Regions from separate parts of the Homo sapiens genome. Here region 2 is linked to region 1. The links come from fine-mapping of genetic effects on gene expression. Tissue or cell type: left ventricle. Region 1 holds a variant in brackets; the other region holds the start of a gene. All regions are shown on one strand. Distances are from middle to middle. Region 1 overlaps ITGA9 (integrin subunit alpha 9). Region 2 holds the start of VILL (villin like).

Evidence for each region. PIP is the estimated chance that this variant, and not a neighbour inherited with it, causes the effect.
Region 2: it holds the start of VILL, and the variant in region 1 is the best candidate, but not a certain one, in a credible set for the expression of VILL in left ventricle (GTEx, PIP 0.89).

The regions. Positions count from the first base shown.
Region 1 is chr3:37,750,488-37,753,391 of GRCh38, reverse strand. ITGA9 (integrin subunit alpha 9) reads right to left here. Exons shown (of 28, transcript NM_002207.3): 23 at 2,823-2,904. Among named protein-coding and RNA genes, the nearest start is that of ITGA9-AS1, 110 kb to the left of the region's middle. The variant G/T (reference allele first, on the strand shown) is at 1,346.
Region 2 is chr3:37,989,338-37,992,241 of GRCh38, reverse strand. VILL (villin like) reads right to left here and starts at 1,456. Exons shown (of 20, transcript NM_015873.4): 1 at 1,413-1,456.

The DNA of each region.
Region 1 (2,904 bases):
CTGGGGTCTGGGCATGCCTCCATTATTGCATTTGTTATACGGTATTACAATGGCATTTTATGTATCTGTTTCCTGCAAGACAGTGAGTTCTGGGGCAGATGTGGGACTTATTCCTCTCCTTGGAGCCTGGCACGTAATAGGTACTTGCTGAGCCAGTGTTTGTGAACAAATCAAGAATGATTTGTTACTAGTAATTTTGCTATTTCAGATAGACTAGAAAGGTCTGTCATTCTTCCCCTCTATTATTTTCATGATCATTACAACCTGGCTTCCTGATGGACAGACACTAGGTCCACAGTGACCTGTTTCCTTTTTTTTCTGTGCTGTGGGAAGTCAGAGTAGGGTCCACACAACCCCCGTGGGTGGGAAGCAGTGAAAATTGATAGTCTTTCCTCAGGCCACCACCGTGGCTCTGTTTTTAAGGTAAATACAAGCACAGCAGAGGGGCTCAGAGACATTAGCTACAAGGAAAGAAGATCACGAGCCAAGGCTGGGAGTTTGGAGTGGTTACACTTCATTAGGCTCCCCGTAAAAACCTCCCATATATAAGCCAGACACTCTCCACTTACAGACAGCTGGACCTCAAGAAATGCTTTGGGCAAACACAAAAGACTCTTTGGTGAAAGCTAGAGGCAGGTTGGTCCTGCCCAGGGACCCCAGAAGCAGCCCCAGAGACTTCTAAATGAATTCTGAACCAAGTCAGAAAACTGTGCCACACGTGGGTCCGTAGGTAGGGTGACAGCCCAGGGCCCATAGGGCGAGTAAGCCCATCCTCATTATGCTCTATGGATGATGATCACAGGCAATACAGACACCAAGGGCACTGTTAGAGAGGGAGAAACAATTTGAGGGTCCCAAGGGTGTGGAGAGGAATGACAGATGAGCCTTCCCTCCATGCCTATAATCTGTTTCTGCTTCAGTTGGCTTAACATGTCCAGCTGGTGCCCAGCTGTTCAGTAGCCTTTGGAGGTTGGGGAATGGTGGTGGCTGAGAGTGGGGGTGGGGAGGGAATGCCACCAGGCCAAAGGGTCACCTCCTAGTGCAGTACAGAGAATGAGTGCTGGTTTCTCCTAATAGGACTGAATTTCACTTGCACCAAGCCACCCAAATCCCCAGAATGAAAGCCCTGCTCCATTCAAAGTCCCATAAGGCCAAAGTGGAAACCGTCATGAGCTCTGAATCACACCTGACCCAGTGAGCATTCTCAGGCCCTACTGAGCAAGGGAGGGGCGGAGCCACAGGAGGCCCTTGCCGAGGGCTTTAAGGCAGAGGGTGTGCCAGCTGTGGGCCTCTGAAACAAGTATCTGGGGACTCTCGCCTCTTCACTACAGCACCTCATGCACTC[G/T]CTTTTATGCTTCTACTCTTGTTGTCATTCTGGGCTCAGTGGTGATCGTTTATAAGAACACAGAGAGCTTTCCTACTTGCTTAGTGAGATGTGCCAGTGAATTTACTTTTCCATACGATGAAGATGCCCACAGCCTTTGATCACAGGCTGGGCTATCCAGATGGAGACTTGGCCATCCTAGGGCCAAGTCTGTTACAGACTTTATGAAAATTCTAAATATAGTTTTGAAAATCCAAAGGATTTGTTTCTCAGAGCCCAAAGAACAGAGTGCAGCCAGCTCACACCACTTGGGTATCTGAGGGTCCACTCAGCCAGAACGATAGCCAGGCAGTTGTCCAGGTCTTCAGGAAACCACTTCTAATGCCTTCCATGCAAGCCAGCTATTTGTAAGTGTGAGCCCAAGTCCCTTCCAGTGGCTTTTCCTTGGCTCGATGATCAGTAAAGAGGAAAAGGGGTATCCCTGGTTTTGGGGTACCTTCAGAATCTGAGTGACTTAAATGTCTTGTTTTGGTCAATAGATGATTTTGCCCATAGGAAAAAAAAAGGCTCCTGCAACACTGTAGATGTTCACGTGAACAACTCAGAAAGCATGCTCTAGGAAGAGAACACTCCTAGATGCTGGGGAAATGTGGCATGGTCAGCATGGTTAATAATATTTAAGAGGGTAGCCAGAAGCCTGTGTGGTTTGTTCACCTCATGCTAAGTTCCAACCATAGTACATCATAGGTGCGGAACACTGGCGGCTTTCTTCTGCTGGGTCAGCAGAGCCCAAAGACAAGGGGATGCCATGGAACTGGAATGGAACATCATGAGGGATGTTAACATCTGAGCTGGCATCTCGGGAGGAGTGACCTGTTCTACATTCAACATTCACATGCGTCTGGTTTTCAGTCCACATGACCCAGAGGGCAGCAATGCCAGAAATTACTGTCACCATCACACAATGTTTTCTGAACCTCCACCCTGTGGGCTGTGTCCTCTTCAACTCTCGGCTCAGATATTCACCTGCTCCATATGGGCCTTGCTGCCCTGATTTTCAAGCTATCTATGGAAAAACTGTCCCTTTGGCTGAATGTCCTTCACGTGCCCCTATAGAGAGCAATGCTTTCACAATCCTCTCAACATGGACTGCAGGCACTTTCCCTGTGCAAAATGCACTCAGCAAAATGCATTCAGACGCATGCAACTGCAGATGCTGCTGGGGGTTCCCAGAGCCAGCGAAGTCCATCCCAGGAGCTGGTTCGTAATTAACTCTTCCCCATCTCCAAAGAGGTCTTCTTACAGCATTAACCAAATGGTCTCAATGTAGAAATTCAGGTATCACAGGTCCCCTGGCCTCTCCAGATATGTCTCCAAAGGGTAGAATGAGTTGAATTTTCCAAACCCTCAAGGTGGATGTCAGGGTAGGGTGGAATACAAAATTTGAATGGGCTGGCTCAAAGCTGAAAGCAATAGTGAAAACAAATGGAGAACTCACCACCATTTCCTGGACATGAAACATCTCTGCACCACCAGATGAGAGTCGATTAGGGAAAGAGATGCTGACAGATGACCCTGGA
Region 2 (2,904 bases), 240 kb before region 1:
GTGACAGTTACCAGAGGCCCAGGCAGGCAGTGACCAGAGGTGCAGACAGAAACTGTGAGCTGTAGCTCATGGAAGAGTACAACATGGTGACAGAGTGCCAGAAAGACTACTGGATGGCCTCAGAACAGTGTCAACCAGGGCACATGGGGGACTGGAAAGTCAAACTGGCAGCCAAAAAGTTGGGACTCGGCTGGTGTCACTGGGAGAGGCAGCATCGCCCCCAGGGGTCCGGGAGCCCGTCTGATATCCAGCCCCAGCCCGTAGAGCCAAGCCCTCAGCTGCCAGGGCTGAGGTCGCACTCGCATGGCACCTGTGTTCATTCTCTTTCACCTGGACTCCAGGGAGGAATGGGTGCTCAAAGATTGGGGGCCTCCTCCCTCCCCACAGTGCCACCTCCAGCCTCCCAAGCCCTCCTGCCCTCTTTCCTCAGGGGAACCCCCCACAGTGCCCCCTCCAGCCTCCCAAACCCTCCTGCCCTCTTTCCTCTGGGGAACTCCCTTTCACCACCTTCCCAAGTGGGAACCCTCCTATCCCTGGTCCTCTCCCTTCTCCTAGAAGCCCTCCTTCTCTTCCCTGGGGGTGCACTTCCTCCACTCAGGGCCCCTTTCTCTTCCGGATGCCCAATTCCTTCCCTGGTTTCCCTTTCTCTCCCCATGCCCCACGCCTCCGCTTTTCCAGGGTTTCCCTCTGTCCCCACTGGGTGCCCCTGCCTCCCCCTGGTTCTTCTTTCTCCCCTCTGATTTCCCCTCTCCCCTGGGATCCTTCCCTTTTTCTCCCATTTTTCCTCCCCAGGCACCTCCTCCTTTCCTGGTTCCCTGTCTTCCCCTACACCCCTCCCTCTCTCCCTCCCCACCCTCCTCCCCAGGTCTTTCCTTCTCTTCCCCAGGCTCCCCTCTCTTTCCCGGGGCACTCCCTACCCGCTTCACACACCCCCTCTTCTCTCCCCCTGCCCCTCGTGTCCCTGGGTGCCTCCTCTCTCCTCGCTTTCTCCCTCCTCCAGTGCCTCTTTCTCTCCCTACAGGAGCCCTTCCTTCTTTTGTGGGTACCTTTGAAGGGAGCCCGAGATTACCTTGCTCAGTTTCCATGGAGCAGGGAGTGGTGCCGCCCTCTAGAGTGAGGGGAAAGGAGGATGGGGCCAGGGTTGGGGGCAGGCACACTGAATTTGTGGGCCACGGACTTCCCTGCCCATCTACAAAATCTGCCACTTTCTTCCCCTTGGGCTGCCGGCCACAGCTGCCCTGCCCCATCAGTGTTTTCACCTGCTGGGCTGCTGCCGCCTCCCAATTCTGCCGCGGAGGCTCTGTGGCCCTGAGCCCTGGGACCCTATGCTCTATGCCCTTGACTTGAATAGCCCACTCTGCCCCACTGGTTCCCTGGAAACCCCCGCCCCCCAACTCTCTGCCCAGGCCTACCTGCTGGAAACTGCTCCCGCGCCTTCGCCCTGCCTGTGGGCAGTGCTAGGCCTGGCACGGGGCCAGTCTCTGCCTCCCTACTCCTGGTCCCCACCACTGTAACTCAATCCTAGCTCCTGCCCTGCAGGACACACCCCACCACACAGTGCTCAGCGGGCTAGGCATTCACTTAGTCAGCCAGTCAACAAATATCGAGCAAGCCGTCGGGACCAGCGCCCTCCCCAGGGCTATGGTTAAGTCTCCCAGGTCTCACTGCCTGGGTACCAGTGGCCAGAGAGAGCAGGGGATGGAGGCCTGGACTGGGCTAAGAGGTGGGGTGTGGAAGATACTGGGATTTCCTTCTCTGGAGTACTAGATGGGCCCCTGATCCCTCACCCGGAGTGGTGGGCTCCGCCTGGACCAAGAGGGCCAGGCCACTCCAGCAAACTTTAGGAGGAAGTAGGACCAAGGCTGGGGGCTGTGGGGTCAGGCTCTGTGAGACCCAGCTCACTTCAGGAGGGGAAGGTGGTCAGGGCTCCCTCTAGATATTTCTGCTGTCCCTACCCAAATGTGAGCTCACTGCCTGGCACAGCCCTCCTCAGGGAACCCTGATACCCATCATGGGAGAGGCCAGTCCAGCTCTTGCAGCGAAGACACCTCTCCCTCACCTCAGCTGCCACTCCACTGCCACTCTCTCTCTCTCACTGTGGGGTGGAGGGGCTGCAAACAGAGCCTTCCAGAAACTCCAGGGGCACAACCTCCTCTTGGCGGCTTAGGGCCTCAGTCCCAGCCAAGGCCCAGCCAGCGTGGGCCATCCCATCAAAGCCACGCTGCTAAAGCCTGCCCACTGCCCAAGACCCTCTCCCTGTGTTCAGTCTTCACCCCACAAAGGTCTCTGTTACAGGGGTCTGGGGACTTGGGGACTCGGGGGCAGTCTGTGTCCAGCAAGACCTACAGCTAGTGTGTGACTGTGTTTAACAGACACAATGCAGGGTCCCTGTGTGTGAAGGGATGCCTGTGTCACAGGCATTTGGCTCGTCCCCATGTGTGCCATTGCCTGTCCGACCTCATGTGTGTGCCTGTATCCTGGCATGTCTGTCTGATCCCCACTTGGGACAGGGACCCTGTCTGTGACAGTGGCAGTGTGTCCACTGTACCTGTGCATACCCGTTTCCCTGTCCCTTTTTGTCTCTGTGCCCAGGAAGACTCTGTGTCCTCACTTCTTCCCACCGACTCTTCCCCCATCTCCCCTCAGCCCACCCGCTCTGTTTGTTCTTGAATTCCCTGGCAATGGCTCTTTCCTAAGTCACCAATGCCCGCTGTCAACCAAGCGGCAGTCAGTTCAGTCACCATTGTTCCTTCCCCTCTCACTCCACCTGTCTCCTTCAGGCCTCTAAATGGCAGCAGGAGCAGAGCTTGGGCCTTCACTCCTGTTTGTTTTCCAGTTTCCTTCCCAGTTCCAGTCTGAAGGCTGCAAATAGCATGGAAACGCCAGTGTCTCCCTGACCCAACT